2 separate regions of the Homo sapiens genome follow, and region 1 is linked to region 2. The links come from fine-mapping of genetic effects on gene expression. A gene starts in region 2. The other region holds a variant in brackets. All regions are shown on one strand. Distances are between the middles of the regions. Region 1 has its middle 16 kb from the start of FAM131C. Region 2 holds the start of EPHA2 (EPH receptor A2).

Region 1 (8,321 bases), 67 kb after region 2:
AACAGCCACTGTATGCCAGGTTTTGGGGACCTTGGGCCAGTGCCTTAACTCCCTGGGACTCAGTTTATCCCTCTAGAAAATGAGACTATTCCAGCCTGGACAATAAAGCAAGACCCTGTCTCTACAAAAATAAAAATAAAAAAAATTAGCCAGGCGTGGTGGCGCATGCCTGTGGTCCCAGCTACTCAGGAGGCTAAGGTGGGAGGATTGCCTAAGCCTAGGAGGTCAAGGCTGTAGGGAGCTGTGATCGCGCCACTGCCCTCCAGCCCGGGCCACAGAGTGAGACCTTATCTCAAACAAAACAAAACAAAACACACACACACACACACACACACACACACACAAAACAAAAATCAAAACAAAACAAACAAAAAACAGAAAAAAGAAAGAAAATAAGACTATTGCTGGTACGTAAAACAAATTAATGCCTTACTCCCAGGGTTGCCGTGAGGTCAAATGGAAAACTCAGTGTACAGGCTCAGGCACAGAGTCCAGTACATGCCACCTGGACCTCCTAGGGGTCCTCTGGGCCTCCTTAACCACCTCTGCCTAGTGGGCCCTTTATTAGTAGAGAACCAGGGCCCATTCCAGGTTCAGCCCGCTCTGGAGAACAAGGCCCCCGCCCCACAGCCCAGGGAGCTGAGACCCCAGCTGGTCCCCAGGCAGATCTGGGAGTGCACAAAGCAGGAGGAGGAGATCCTGGGGTTTGGGCCTCCCTCTCCGGTCTACACTTTCAGCTGCTCCGGAGGCTGGACCACGTGACACAGTAGCGAGCCGGTCCTGCACCATGGGATCACCTTGCAGGCAGCCCAGCCCCTTGCTCCCCCAATGCTGCCCAGGTGTCAGCTCCATCGCCGCAGGCAGGGTGCTGCGTTCTTTGGGCTTGAGACTGACCCTCTATATGCTGGGGGGATGCCCTTCCAGAAGTGACGTTCTGTGACTCTCTAGCCTTCTCCGGAACAGCGGTGGTGCCAGTGCAACTGCTAGGCCTGGAGAGGCAGAGAAGGCACCAGGGCTGTGGGGGTGGAAGAGGGCATGTACCATCCTGCCTCTCAGGTGTGGAGGAGGGGGTGGTGACAAGGAGGGTGTGAGAACAGCACAGAAGGAAGTCTGTGTACCCACAGACTTCCAAAGACCACCAGAAACACACCTGGACAAAGCTGGATTTACTGCTCATTGATACGAAGGAAGACGCACACCTCAGGAAAGGGAGGGGTGTCTAAGAGGGTGACTGGGAGGTGATGGTGGGAGGGCCCTTTGCATGGGCTTGAGTGGTGTGGGTGGGGGCTGTGTGCCTGGGTGGACCCACACAGGTGTAGATGTGTATATGTGTGTGAGCAGGACTCTGACAGCGGGGTGGGTGCACGTTCATGTGGGCAGGTGTGATGCCTCCACCTCGGTGGGTGGGTCTCAGAAGCAGCCTGAGTTTAGGGTTCAAACCGGCCTGAATTATCCCCAGTTGAGCTCCTTTCTGGCTGTGTGACCTTGGCCACGTCACTTGCCCTCTCCGAACCCCATTCATCCCTTCCACAAGTACACCTTGAGATCTTGCTGTGTGCCGGGAGCAAACAAGGCAGAGAAGGTCCCAGCCTTCATGGAATTGGTGGTCTTGCCTCAGTTTCTCCATCTTTAAAGTGAGGGTGGCAGTATCTGTCTTCCAGGCAACATCTGTCAAATGCAGGGCATCGGGGCCAAGTGCTCAGTGGAGGTCTGTTTTCGTCCTCCTTCTGGAAACCTGGAACTGCACGCCTTCTTCCAAGGGACACAGCTCTCAGCTGGTGGGTAGAGAGAGCCAAGCTCCCTCCGCTTAAGGCACGACCTAGTTCCCAGACGGCCCTTGCTCTGTTGTGCTGGCGAGGGCCCTGGGAGGGAATGGCAAAGCCATCTGGGGTGGGTGGGTGAGACAGGGGCCTTGGCATTCCAAAGAGCTGGGCACCTCCCGGACAGTGAGGGGCGCAGGTCTGGAGGACAAAGATCCGTTGTGGGCCCCCATCAGAGTCCCCCACACACACCCAGTACAGGCACCAGGCACCGATGTGGGATGGAAACTCCTCCAACAAGTTGGGACACCCTCTTTCTCTGGGTAGGCGGGGCTCACGGGGCAGGGACTGGGGATAGAGCAGAGGAGGTGGCTGCCAACCTCCCACTGGGCAGTTGTTTACACCCAAGTGATGAGCTGGCTCTTGGCTTCATCACCTGCTCACCTGGCCAGGTGTGCCAGGAGAGGCTGGCTGTTCCTGCCTGGCCCAGTTGGCATTCAAGGTTCTGGCTCCGCTGGGACAGGGCACGAGACTGAAGGGGTGACCAGAAGAGGACGACTGCAGGTCTTTGCTTAGAACCCGATGTCTGATTTCCTCTCTGCCTGATTTCCCTCACGTGCCCACAGCAGCCCTGGAGTGTGAGGAGCTGCAGTTCCTTTTGCAGGGGAGGCTGGCAGAGATTTAGGGCACCCCTGGCCCAGAAAGGATGATGCCCTGCAAGAGGGGTTGGTGACCCCTCTTTTCCACATCACTGAAGCGTTGGGGGTCTTGATAGAGGTGGCTGCCATCTGCCAGCCCAGCAGGCAGGTGGAGAGGAAGCAGTCTGTACCCAAAGTAGGAAGGACTCAGGTTAGACCCAAGAGAGTCATTGCAGCCCACGGAGGAGTTCTGGAGTCAGAAAGGGATGCTTCCTTGCAGGACCTGCCTTTGGTGGGGTTGGGAGGTGGAAGAGAGGCCAGGACAGATGGAGGAAGGGGGTAGGTCCCCTCTCCCTCTTGCCAAGTGAAGAGCATGTGGAGCCTGCACCCACCTACCCACACCCATTTCCCTCCACATTGCCAGCCAAGGGAACCCAGGCCTAGGAGTTGCACAGTTAGAATTGTAGGGAGATCATGAGCCAGTTCCTTTAACTTCTCTGAGCCTCAGTTTTCCTCTTCTGTATGATGGGCAGCATGTATTTGACTCTCAGGGCCTGGGTGAGACCAAACTGTGTACCAGGCACTTCGTATGCGCCATGCACAGTGTACCAGGTACATCATATGTGCCACTCACAGTGTACCAGGCACATCATATGTGCCACACACCCTTGTACACAGTGCCCTTGGCTTCTTCTTCTGAGGCAGGCACCATTATAGGCCCATTTTACAGATAAGGAGATTGGGGTAGGGCACTGGGTAGGGCAGGAGATGTCCATCCTATGGGTCCCTTTCCTCTCCCAGAGAGCAGGCAAGTGAGGCAGGGTCTTGGATTGTGGCATGCAGGAGAGGCTGACGGCTCAGCTTGGGCTTGCACTGGCTCTGGCTCAGGGGGTTCTTGTAATCTAGGCAGGGTGTTCTCTCCTGGTCACCTTCCAGAGTTTCATTTCTTGAAGCAATGCGTCACAGCTGCAGAGTTGGTCTCCCCTAATAAGGATGTGAGAGCACTGGCAAGCAGGTCCCC[G/A]TTCCTGCTTCCTTGCATCTGTTTCTGGGTTCTGGGCATCTGTGGCCCAGGGTGTTTTGTGCTATGGTGTCCAGAGAGAGAGACAGGAGGCTTTCTTTGTTCTGCCTCAGTTCCAACCTTACTTTTGTTATGTTCAAAAGACAAGAGGGATGGACTTCACACACCATCAGGTACACAGTGGGCCATGCCATCAGGAAGAGGACCGGCTGCCTGACCCCAGTGCCTGCACCTCCAACCTCCCTCCCTCCCTCCCTCCTCCCTTCCTTCCTTCCTTCCTTACTTACTTACTTACTTACTTCCTTCCTTCCTTCCTCCTTCCTTTCTTTCTTTCCTTCTTTCCTTCTTTCTTTCTTTGACAGAGTCTTGCTTTGTTACCCAGGCTGGAGTGCAGTGGTGCGATCTTGGCTCACCGCAACCTCTGCCTCCTGGGTTCAAGAGATTCTTGTGCCTCAGCTTCCCAACGTGCTGGGAGCCACCACCCCCTCCCCCTCCCTTCCCCTCCCCTTCCCTTTCTTTTTTATTTTTTGAGACAGAGTCTTGCTTTGTCACCCAGGCTGGAGTGCAGTGGTGCGATCTCGGCTTACTGCAGCCTCCACCTCCTGGGTTCAAGCGAGTCTTGTGCCTTGGCCTCCCAAAGTGCTGGGATGACAGGTGTGAGCCACTGTGTCCGGCCTCCAATTTCTTTCTTTTTCTTTCCCCTGCCATCTTTCACAGGCATCCATTAAACCTTATTCTGTCACCCCTCTTCTATCATTTCACTGAGGTCCAAGCTGTGGCCTCCTCCTTTCACCTGGACTCTACCCACCTCCCTCTAGCCTCCAGCCTGGCCCCTTCCTGCACTCTCATCTGATCACCTCCTGCCCCAGTGCTGAATCCTTCAACAGCTCCCCTTTGCTTCCTGATGCAGTCCTGACTAGTGGCTCTGGCATTCAGTGCCTGCCCTGCGGAAACTGGCCAAGCGGTGAAGTACGTGGGCCTGCGGGGCCTTCCCCTGATAGCCAGTGTCCAGGCGCTGAGTCAGCCCTGTGTGTGGAGGTGAGGGAGGCAACGGTTGCACGAGTCGCTGAGGGGAACTGAGGCCCCGAGAGGGGCCTCAAGTCCCATGCTCCAAGTCCTATGGTGGGGAAGCTCAGCAGAGGCCCTGCCCCTTTCCCCTGGGTCTTGCCCCTGCAGGCACTGGGCCCCTGGGAGCCAAGTGGCCCATGGGTAAGGCTGAACCCTCCTCCTGCCCTGTTGGCTTCTCGAATCCTCATAAATCAGAGGTGAAGAGTGGGTGGCATTCTGTGCAAATCACCCTCAGTGCTGTGTGTGCCCATTGGCCCCGCTGCCCACCTGCCCACCTGCTGCTCCCCGGGGCCATGCGTATCAGGGAAGTAACGAGCCCAGCTACCCCTCACAGGCAGGTTCGGGGCACAGGTCCCCAAGGACTCCTCCCAACTCTGTCCCAGGGGAAGCCCACAGCTCGGCCCACTTCCCCCTCTCTGGGCAGTGAGGTCTCCACCCTGGTGCCCACCCTCCTGGCCCTGCCCAGGCGGCCTCCAGCAGGTTGTTTTCCCGGCTGGGCCTGGCTCAGCCTCCAGGGCCTGCCGGTCACGTAGCCAAACTCGTTCCTCTTCTCCTACTGCCCAGGCTGCTGAGCACAGCGGTTTCCTGCTGGGGAGAGCACAATGGAGCCCACCCCAAGGGAGCCACCCAGGGGAGGCGCCACCCCAGCGGGCTGTGAGCGCTGTGTGACCCAGGACTGGGCCCACGCCCTCTCTGAGCCTTGGTTTCCCTACAGAGAAGTGAGGAGGTGAGGCGAGGTCATGGGAGGCCACTCTCCAGTAGTAACAGCCATCTTTCCCTGAGCACCAAACCTACGCCAGGCCCACAATCCCCATGTCCTCACCGCCAGCCTGCGGGGCTGGGACAGAGTGAGGTTTATTCATTTGGTCACAGCCGAACCTCCTTTTTCTGTCCAACATCTCAGAGCTTCTTCCTGTCTCCTGTTTAGGAATCTGCTCTCCCTGTCCCCACCCCTGCCCTACCTCCCCCTCTTCCTCCCAGGAGGTGCCCAGCCCGGGCTGGGGTGGGGAAATGGGAGGAAGTGTTAGAAAGTACAAATTAGATCAGGGGGCACCTGGACCAAGGTGGTCCTGGTCTGCCCGCCCCAGCTGGCTGGCAGGAAGGAGAAGGTTTGGGAGCTGCGGGGAGAGAGACTGTGTGGGGAGGCACAGGGAGGAGGGAGAGGGACTGGGGAGGTTCAGAGGCTGAGAGTCAGTGGCCCTGCAGGGTTCTGTTCCTGCCTCCTCACCCTCCTGCTTCCGCCCTCAGCCCCAACAACCTCTTACTTCTCTTCCATCTAAAGCCTGGGACCCAGGGCCTCTCAATGGTGAGGAGGAGGGCTACCCTCCCCACAGTGACACCGCCCCAGGACATATCAACGAGCGGCCCTAGGCAGAGAGGACTCCCCAAGTTCTCACGACCTCATTGTGCCTCCCCAATTTAAAGCCATGTTGATGGGCTCCATTCCCAAGTCCTGGGTCAAGCTGAATTAACCCCAAGTTGGAGCACTGGAAAACTGTTATTTGCAAATATTATTGTTACCATTTAGAAATACGTGCACAACCTCTTTTGTCTTTAGAGAAAACTATCCACCTATAAAAAACTACCTTGACAAAAACAATTCTGGTTTGACTGATCATTTTGTTTCTTTTTTTTTTTTCTTTTGAGATGGAGTCTCATTCTTGTTGCCCAGGCTGGAGTGCAGTGGCACGATCTCAGCTCACTGCAGCCTCTACCTCCCAGGTTCAAGTGATTCTTCTGCCTCAGCCTCCTGAGTAGCTGTGATTACTGGCACCGGACACCAGGCCTGGCTAGTTTTTTTTTTTTTTTTTGTATTTTTTGTAGAGACAGGGTTTCACTACGTTGGCCAGGCTGGTCTCAAACTCCTGGCCTCAGGTGACCCACCCACCTCGGTCTCCCAAAGTGCTGGGATTACAGGTGTGAGCCACTGTACCTGGACCATTTTGTTTCTTTTTTTTTTTTTTTTTGAGACTGAGTTTTGCTCTTTTTGCCCAGGCTGGAGTGCAGTGGCGCGATCTTGGCTCACTACAACCTCCGCCTCCCGGGTTCAAGCGATTCTCCCTGCCTCAGCCTCCTCAGTAGCTGGGATTACAGGCATGCGCCACCATGCCTGGCTAATTTTGTATTTTTAGTAGAGATGGGGTTTTACCACGTTGGCCAGGCTGGTCTCGAACTCCTGATCTCAGGTGACCCACCCACCTCGGCCTCCCAAAGTGCTGGGATTACAGGCATGAGCCACTGTGCCCGGCCTCCCATTTTGTTTCTTTAAGCGGTAAGTGTATGCAGTGTGGGTCCTGGGCGAGCCAACCTTGCACCGTGGATGCATTTCTACGTCCACGTGCTATTCGAACAGAAGGCACCCTAAATAGAAATGTTGCTTTGAAGCAATATTTGCAGAACATGCAAACTTCTGTATTTGTATTTGGAAAAAATAAAACAGGTTCTTGTTGCTTAAGGAAAAAAAAAAAAAAAAAGAGCAAGGTGCCAGGCACAATCGCTTAGGCTTGTAATCCCAGTACTTTGGGAAGTTAAGGTGGGAAGACCGCTTGAGCTCAGGAGTTCAAGACCAGCCTGGGCAATATAGCGAGCCCCATCTCTACAAAAAACTTAAAAAATTAGCCGGGCGTGGTGGCATTACTACTCAGGAGGCTGAGGTAGAAGGCTTGTTTGAGCATGGGAGGTTAAGGCTGCAGTGAGCTGAGGTCAAGCCAAAAAAAAAAAAAAGCAAGGCCAGGCATGGTGGCTCGCACCTGTAATCCCAGCACACTTTGGGAAGCTAAGGTGGGAGAATGGCTGGAGTCCAGTAGTTCAGCCTGGGCAATATAGTAAGACCCTGTCTCTATTTAAAAAAAAAAAAGTGGCCGGGCGTGGCTCATGCCTCTAATCCCAGTACATTGGGAGGCCAAGGTTGGTGGATCACTTGAGGTCAGGAGTTCGAGATCAGCCTGACCAACATGGTGAAACCCCATCTCTACTAAAAATACAAAAATTCGCCAGGCATGGTAGCACACTCCTGTAGTCCCAGCTACTTGGGAGGCTGAGGCAGAACTGCTTGAACCCTGGAGGTGGAGTTTGCAGTGAGCTGAGACTGTGCCACTGCACTCCAGCCTGGGTGACAGAGAGAGACTCCATCTCAAAAAAAAAAAAAAAAAAAGGCACAGCCCAGACTCTCCACCTGACAGTGCCATGGTGTGTCCCCAGAAAAGTGGGTCCCCAAAGCGGGACTTCCTAAGAGCACTGCTGAGGTTTCTGGTGAGAACCAGGGACATGGGGAGGAGCAGTCCTTCCTTGGCAGGGCCTGGGAGGCTCCCTTGAAGGGAAGAGGAAGTGACTACCGTCCCCAGAGCCACATCTCTCCCCTCCTCAGTCCGAGGCCTGGCAAACACTCCTGAAGCCCACGACCCCCAGCCCTCCAGGATCAGAAGGCTTGACCTTGCCTTCACTCAGCCCTGAACTCCATCCTGGCCCAGCCAGGCCCTGGAAGTGTCAGCAGCAATTCAACCCTGAAGCCCAGGGTCCACAGAGGGAGCAGCCCCAGCCCAGCTGACCCACGCTCTCCTCCTCCCCTCCTATCTCCACCTCGAGATATGGAGACCTGTGCTCTGGATGCCCTCTCAGGCGATGGAATTTGGAATCCTAGCACTTGCCTCTTAGAGCCTCAGTTTCCTTATCCGCACAACCATCCTCTAAATAATCCCACTTCCTCAGCTGGTCGTGAGGACGAAAAGGGACAATGTTCATGAGGAGCCTCACCCAGCAGGTACAGAATCATATGAATGTTTATTTCTTTTTTCTTTTCTTTTTCTTTTTTTTTTTTTCTGAGATGGACTTTCACTC
Region 2 (8,317 bases):
CTCCGTCTAAAAAAAAAGGAAATGAATGGAGGAAACTAATTTAGAATGTCACCATCAAATGTGAGCATCTAAGGCCAAGCACAGTGGCTTACGCCTGTAATCCCAGCACTTTAGGAGGCCGAGGAGGGCGGATCATGAGGTCAGGAGTTCAAGACCAGCCTGACCAACATGGTGAAACCCTGTCTCTACTAAAAATACAAAAATTAGCCAGGTGTGGTGGCGTGCACCTGTAATCCCAGATACTCAGGAGGCTGAGGCAGGAGAATCACTTGAACCCGGGAGGTGGAGGTTGCAGTGAGCTGAGATTGCGCCACTGCACTCCAGCCTGGGGGACAGAGCAAGACTCTGTCTCAAAAAAAAAAAAAAAAAAAAAATTAGCATCTATTGAGCAGAATGTGTGGGGAACTGTTCTACCTGTTGCTGGATTCATACCCTGCCTCTGAGGGATTTACAGTCTAGTTGAGAAGATAGTTCAGAGGCTTTGAAAAACAAAAAAGAGTTCAGTTGGTTGAGAGCAGGGTGCTGGTAGGCATGTAGCATGGAGGCCCCTGGGGCTCTAGGGGGGGCCTGATCCCTGGGGGTTTCACCCAAGAGGTAGTAATTAGACTGACCTTAAAGATCCCAGCTGCGGAGAGTTGGCACATTCCAGGACGGGGCACTGCTCTCCAGGTTCAGTGGAATTCAGAGGCAATGGTTGAGGCAGGTACCCATGAGAGTGCGCGCTGGATCTAGCCTGTCTGGGCCAGAATGCCAGCTCCAAATTTTACTTCCAAATTTGCTCTTCTGCAAAATGTGGGCAGGAGCAGTGGCCACCTCCCTGAAGGTGTCATGAGAACTAAGTGGATCAGTACAGATAAGTGCCTAGAACTGGGCCCGGCACATAGTAGTGCTTCATAAGTATTGGCTACAGTTTTTTTCTTTGCTTTTCTTTTTTTAAAAAAATTTTGTTTTGAAACAGGGTCTCACTTGGTTGCCTAGGCTGGAGTGCAGTGGTGCAATCACGGCTCATTGCAGCCTTGACCTCCTAGGCTCAAGCAATCCTCCTTCCTCAGCCGCCCGAGTAGCTGAGGCCACGGGTGCTCACCACCATGCCCAGCTAATTTTTTTTCTTTTTTCTTTTGTAGAGATGGGGTCTCACTGTATTGCCCAGGCCGCATTATTTTTTTTCTGATGCTCTTGGCCAAAGGCAGGCACAGATCAAAGGTGGGGTAAGTGAGGCCATGGCTTCAGCATTCACCTTTGTCATCTCCTTGCCCCCAGTACCCAGCCCCAGCTAAGTCCTAGCAAAGGTGGGCCCCTAAGCAGGCTGGTGGGCCGGAGGCAGGGATTGGCAGGAGAGGCAGTCACACACAAACACACACTCACTCGGGCTCCACCTGCCTGTACAGGAGCCTTGTCTGCTGCAGTGGCGCTGAGGCCCTGAGGGCTCCTTGGGGCCTTTATGGGGTAATTCCATCTCCATTAGGGCTGATTATGTCACTATAAATACCGCGTTTTGGTGCCGCTTTATAAGACTCACTGAAGAACTTTCCTCCTTAGCACCCAGTCACCTAGAGCGGGAAAGACTCTGAGTCGGACAGGAAAAGAGGGAAGGGTGTGTCATTAAATGGGTGACTAAAAGCCAGGGAAAAGCCAGGTGGAACACCCTCTTGCCACCACCTGACATACCACTCCTTTCCATAGGCCTCTGTTCACGTCACATGCTGCAGATGAGCAACACCCTGCCCTATGCTCTCAGCCCCCAACTTGTGCACATACTGCTGGGCACACGCCCCACAGCCATCAGGGCCTGCCTGCACCCCTGCCGTGTGTGTGCTTGGATTCAACCTTTTGAGGCCACACATGGAAACCCACACTTGCCACCAGAAGGACCAACCAACACTACACACAGAGACTTTCACGCAACACAGAACTCGCAACACTGTCATTCACTCATTAGTTCATTCATTCAGCGGAGGCTTGCTGAATATCTAGTATGTATCAGGCACTGTCTGTTTTCTTTTTTTGTTTTTGGCTCTCGCTCTGTCACCCAGGCTGGAGTGCAGTGCCGCGGTCTCGGCTCACTGCAACCTCCACCTCCTGGGTTCAAGCGACTTTCCTGCCTCCAACTCGAGCAGCTGGGATTACGGGCATGCGCCACCACGCCCGGCTAATTTTTGTATTTTTAGTAGAGACGGGGTTTCACCATGATGACAAGCTTGGTCTCAAACTCCTGACCTCAAGTGATCTATCTGCCTCGGCCTCCCAAAGTGCTGGGATTACAGGCGTGAGCCACCGCGCCTGGCCCAGGCACTGTCTGTTTTCTACAAACATCCCTGTCCTCCTGCAGTGTGTCCTCTAGTGACACATCTGACAGATGGAGCCTGCAAGTGGCATGTAACACACATGTACAAGCAGTGGCTTCCACACAACTCACATGGAGTCTTACACACGCCAGTGTCCCTAGCCCAGAGGCTCCAATACAACATGCAAAACACTTATCCAAACCACGTACTACACACATGCTCACACTCATCCACACACCCCATGTGCCTGTCCACAGAGCCCTGGGCACAACACATGCCCTGCTCTCCACGGATGTGGCTTCCTGTTGCTGAACCGCATGTAACCCAGTAACAGCTGAGATTTCATGCGTGCTTTCTGTAGTCCTGGCCCCTGTGGTTTACATGCATGACTTTATTTGATCTTTACAGTAACTCTCCTAAATAGGCTTTACATCTTTCCAGGAGCAAACTGAGGCTCAGAAAAGTGAAATAACTTGTTCAGAAACTCATGGGCTGACTCCACATCTACTGTGAAGTATGGCACACTCACAAATACATGCATACACAAATCCACACTCACATGCACTCATACACAAATCTCTCACACCCACATGCACACTCATACACACATCTAGACACATCCACACAATCCACAAAAACACACACAGACACACACTCATACCCAAATCCTCTCATGCCCATGCACACACACTTATACACACATATACCAACACTTTTTTCTTTTTTTTTTTGAGACAGAGTCTTGCTGGCCCAGGCTGGAGTGCAGTGAGTGGCGCAATCTCGGCTCACTGCAATCTCTGCCTCTGGGGTTCAAGTGATTCTCCTGCCTTAGCCTCCTTAGTAGATGGGATTACAGGTGAGTGGCACCACGCCCAGCTAATTTTTTTGTATTTTTAGTAGAGACGGGGTTTCACCATGTTGGCCAGGCATGTCTGGAGCTCCTGACCTCAAATGATCTGCCTGCCTCGGCCTCCCAAAGTGCTGGAATTACAGGCCTGAGCCACCCTGCCCAGTCACATACAACACTTATGTCCATACACACACTCACACACAGTCATACATACATCAACACTCTCATGTCTATACACACGAATGCACATTCAACAAAATCTCACACCCTCATACACATGCACTTATTCTCACAGGCACTTGCACACTCACAGGCTCTCAGAGGACCAAGGCTCTCCTCCCATCCTCTTGGTCAAAGGCTTTAATTATCCCCAACGCCTGTAATTAACCCTTCCTCTCTTCCTGCAGGAGAGATGTCTGGACCCGCTTCCCAAGAGTAGGCACCAAGGCGAGAGGCCAAGATGTCCACATCCGGCAGAGAAGACCCACGTACCTGGGTAGCAGGTCCCGGGCATCAAAGCGAGGATGGGGTCAGAGAGGAAGAGGTAGGCAAAGGGAGTCTGGGGCCTCCCAGGAAATCAGGCCTGCCACAGTTGCTCTTCCTGGACTGGTCAAATGGTGATTGGCCAACAGGCAGCCGTGGGTGGCTGGGCAGGCGGGCCAGAGCAAATTTCCCGTTTGTTTCACTCACACTAGCCGCTTCTGTCAGGAAGGGAGATGAGCTCATGTCTGAGGAAGTTTTGTGAAGAGGCCTTATCAAGGGGCAGGTGGTAGGCAGGTGTCCTCCAAACTGTCAAAACCTATCAACCCATGCCAGGGTCGGGGGCCAGGGGTGCCCCTTGCCCCCTTCCCCAAAAAGAAGCAGTGGTTCAAGCAGAGACCACCAGGATTCAAATCCTGCTTCTACTACCCGTGAGCTGTGCACCCTTTGGGCATGTTGTTTCTGCTCTTGGAGCCTCAGTCTCCTCTTCTGTAACATGGGGATGATGACCCCTGCCTCCCAGATGAGAATTATTAATAAATAAGATAGTGCATGTCTGATCCATTCCCAGAGGAAATGAACCTATTCTCAGATCATAGTAGGCTTATAGGCTTCTGAACAGAGATACTCTTTTTGACCATCAGCAGCTTGATATACTCTTCAAGGGTTTTAGGAAGGAGGGCATCCAGGTCTATTTCTGGGCCACTCTCTCAGGCCTGCTGCTTAGGAGGCAACTGCTTATTGGACCCCCAATCCATTTCAGCTCAGACCTTCAGGCCAGCGTTGAGCTCAGTCGCATTGAGCTCAGTCTCAGAGGTGAAGGGCAGAATGGGTATGGCTCAGCGCAAAACCATTAAACGTTTCCACCGAGGATACCAGGCTCAGAGATCCCTGGGGGCTAATCCGTAGGGGCGCTGGCGCTTTGAGACGCTCAAACTTTGGAAGGCCTGCGGGGAGCCCGCGAGTCCAGAGGGCCCCAAGGTCCTCCTCCAAACCCCTCCGGACTTCCCCTCCCTCTCCTCCGGGTGCCAGCCCGGCCCCTTTAAAGACATTCCTGAGGGCGGGCGTTGGTGACGTCACGCAGGGCATGAATGAACAGGAGTCGGTTCTCACCCAACTTCCATTAAGGACTCGGGGCAGGAGGGGCAGAAGTTGCGCGCAGGCCGGCGGGCGGGAGCGGACACCGAGGCCGGCGTGCAGGCGTGCGGGTGTGCGGGAGCCGGGCTCGGGGGGATCGGACCGAGAGCGAGAAGCGCGGCATGGAGCTCCAGGCAGCCCGCGCCTGCTTCGCCCTGCTGTGGGGCTGTGCGCTGGCCGCGGCCGCGGCGGCGCAGGGCAAGGAAGGTGAGTGCGCGCGGCGTCTGGACCCCTGGCCCCCGGGCCCCAGTGCCCCCTAGAGCCCGGCGCTCCTTGACGCGCGCAACTTTGGAACCTACCTGGTGTCGCCCAGTCCCGGCGAACTGGAGTCCGGAGGGCGCACGGGCTGCGATCGAGGCGAGCCCTGGCCCCCACCCGGGGTCATAGGGGCTCCGGAGAATAAGCGGTTTCAGCTTGGTCGCACGGGCCTCGGAGGCTGCGGAGAAGAGGACGCGGCGCAGGCCACGCGGTTGCAGTCCAGGCGGCGACTTCGGGAACGCGTCCCGGCGGGGGGCGTGGGGAGTCCCCTAGAGAAGGGGGTGTTTGGGCAGCTTTCCGCGGGCTCAGCTTCTTAGTGACCTGAATTCACTAACCCGCTTGCCGAGGTTTTGCGGAGAAGGCATACTGTGCAGGCCTCGCATTTTGGGGAGGGGGCTCGGGCGGGCGGGAGCCCCCTGTCGAAGCCCCTGTTCCCTGAGATTTTCTCCACGCCCCCCTTCACCTCCAGTCCCGGGGGAGAGCGTGGAGATAGGTTCGGGCCAATCCCTGCTCACACACTCCTTTCCCTCCTTCCCAAGCCGCACTCCCGGGCTCCCGGGGCAGGTTAGGGGCCGCGAGTGCGGACAGGAAGTCCCAAAGTCAAGCGTTCTGAGCAAGGGTGACTCAGAACGAGGAAATGCGGCAGGTGGGGGTGCGGCCTCCCAAGGTGTGGAGCTGTCAGCCCAGGGCCACCAGGGAGTCAGGACACCCGGGGGTGGGGGACTGAATCACCCACCCCCGCCCCAGTGTTCCCGGAGCCGCGCCGAGTGAGGGGCCGCAGACTTTGCTCATGGCGCAGCGGGTGCGTGGTGGGGGTGTTGTCCCTCCGCTAGGGTCAGGGCGAGGATGGGGGCTCCTGCCCTGGCCGAAGACCTTCCTGTCCACCCAGCCCAGGCCAGCTTCAATTTCCAACAGTGAGGGCAAGGCTTCCCCTCCTGCCTGGGCAGAGCGAGGTTTCCGCAGGCTCCACAAGGGGGAAGCCGGGAGGAAACTTGGGCCGGTGAGAAGTTTCCTTCTTTTTTTTTTTTTTTTTTTTTTTTGAGACGGAGTTTCGCACTTGTTGCCCAGACTGGAGTGCAATGGCGCAATCTCGGCTCACTGCAACCTCTGCCTCCCGGGTTCAAGCTATTCTCCTGTCTCAAGCCTCCCTAGTAGCTGGGATTACAGGTGCCCGCCACCAGGCGCGTCTAATTTTTGCATCTTTTAGTGGAGACGAGGTTTCACCATGTTGGCCAGGCTGATTCTGAACTCCTGACCTCAGGTGATCCACCCGCCGCGGCCTCCCAAAGTGCTGCGATTACAGGCATGAGCCACCACCCCCGGCCTGTTTCCTTCTTTTTCTGCCTCCCAAACTGGGTTTGGAGGTTTTGCTGTTCTGTGTTGGGAGGAAAAGAGGCCGGATCTGGAGCCGTTGGGCAGTGGCAGGTGTTGGGGGTGGCATCCTGTCTCAGTCTCTGGAGTGACAGGGCCCGGGTTGGGGTCTCAACCGGGACTTCTGGTTGCAGGAGCTCATGGCAAGGATTTCTGCCACCCTCAATATCCGCCCCACCAACGTTTGGTCCTCCCCCTTCCTGGGGGACTGTGGTTGGAGAGAAGGGGAGAGACAGCTGGAATCACTATAGGCCTTTCTCCTCGGCTGCCCATGGGGGGGTGGGGGATTAGGCGGGTGCTTTGCTGCTGCAGTCCCCAAGCTGGCCTGGAAGCCTGGAGCTGCCTTGTCCTTGTCCCCTGTGTCCACCTCTCCCCAGCCTGTGTGATTAAACCCCACCCCCACACCCCATGGGATGCAGGGGGAAAGGCTTGTGTATTGCACTGGGGTGGGGGTACATTTTTGCTTCGACTCTGAGTCCCCGTGAAAGAGTCCCTAGAGAAGTGTGCCTAGGTGGGGGTGGGCATGATGGCCTAGCTGGCAGCTGCTGGTTTCAGTTCCTGGGAATCAGGCTGTATGTGGTGGGTCTGCCTGGGGGTGGCTTAGGGGGCAGGCAGGAGGACACAGGTGCCTTTTTCACCTACCCCCAGGCTGCTTCAGACTTCTTTCTTGCCCCCTCACCCCTAGGCTATACTTGGTTGCCCACGTGGCTCCTGTTAGGTCATCAACAGCCACTGAATCTGCCCTCATTTTTACAAATGGGGAAACTGAGGGAGGCCCGAGCCCTTGCCAACCAGGGCCTTCTGGACAGAGGACCAGACCTGAGCATCCCGCTTCTTGGCTGCCAGAGCCAAGGCCCTGCCTGCTTTGTGGTTGGTGTCATGGTAGATTTTCCTGGGAAGCAGGCATAGCTGGGCAGGGGCCTGGGCGGGTGGCAGGGGGTGCTGAGCTGGGGTGCTGCTGATGGGAAGAGGGCTGGAGAGTGCCAGGAAGTCCTTGGTTTCTGGTTCTACCGGGGCCAAGTCTGCCCTCTGTCCCCTTTCCCTTTTCTTTCATGTTTTCCCCAGAGTCCCCACCTCCCTGCTTCCTTTAGGGATTAGCTAGTCTTGGTTAGAGAGGAATGGGGGAAGCGGGGAGGGAACCACAGCCTCGGAGGCTGCGGAGAAGGACCGGAGACCGGGAGTGGGTGGCAGTCCTGCATTTGTGGAAGAAGCTGTGGAGCAATGTGGACCCACAAAGATGGCACTTACGGTGGAACTCATGGCAAAGAAGGAGGTGTTTTTTGCTTTTTTTTTTTCCCCCCAGAAATGGGAAGGTAAGGGGATAGAGAGCTCATGGATAAGCCCTGCTTAGCCTAAGCCTCTCCAGGAAGCCGTCTGGGTCAGCCGAGGGGCTCCCAGGCTCCCACCCTTTCCAGAGAAGCGGGAGCCTCTGTCCCTGGAAGAACCTGGGGAAAGAGCCGCGCCCGCGTCAGGGCGGAGGGACCCAGCGCTGGGCGCCTCCTGTTCCTGGTGGTTGGTTCGAGGGAATTTCCCTGGGAGGGGGCCGGGGTTGGAAACCCCTGCAGGGGGGGCTCCTTCCTGTGTGAGGGCTTCTTTTCTTCTCCGATTGAGCCCTGTGCTACTTCTAGAGCCAGGCCTAGGCTGGAAAGGGAGGGCCCTCCATGCCAGGTTAACCCTTCAGAAGCCTGGTAGCGGTGAGCCCTCTCACTTGGGCACAGACCTCAGCCTCCTGTCAATCTAAGGGGGGGCTGCAGGACTGTGAGGAACCTTTGTCCTTCTACCCACCCAGCTGAAATCAGGAGCCTCCAGATTCCTTCCTGTGTAGCTGGAACATTCCATTTGCTAGTGGGGTTAGTGAGTTTCAAAGCCCCGGCCCTGGGCATGTCTGAACAAATCCCTGCCCCTGCCCACCCCGCTGCCCCCAGCCACCCTCCCC

Evidence for each region. PIP is the estimated chance that this variant, and not a neighbour inherited with it, causes the effect.
Region 1: its variant is fine-mapped to the expression of EPHA2 in whole blood (TOPMed, PIP 0.97).

Annotation. Positions count from the first base shown.
Region 1 is chr1:16,085,275-16,093,595 of GRCh38, reverse strand. No RefSeq gene overlaps it. Among named protein-coding and RNA genes, the nearest start is that of FAM131C, 16 kb to the right of the region's middle. The variant G/A (reference allele first, on the strand shown) is at 3,420.
Region 2 is chr1:16,152,490-16,160,806 of GRCh38, reverse strand. It overlaps EPHA2 (EPH receptor A2), which reads left to right and starts at 4,738. Exons shown (of 17, transcript NM_004431.5): 1 at 4,738-4,959. The coding sequence starts at 4,875. It overlaps EPHA2-AS1 (EPHA2 antisense RNA 1), which reads right to left and starts at 5,592. Exons shown (of 3, transcript NR_187275.1): 1 at 5,052-5,592; 2 at 3,628-3,836.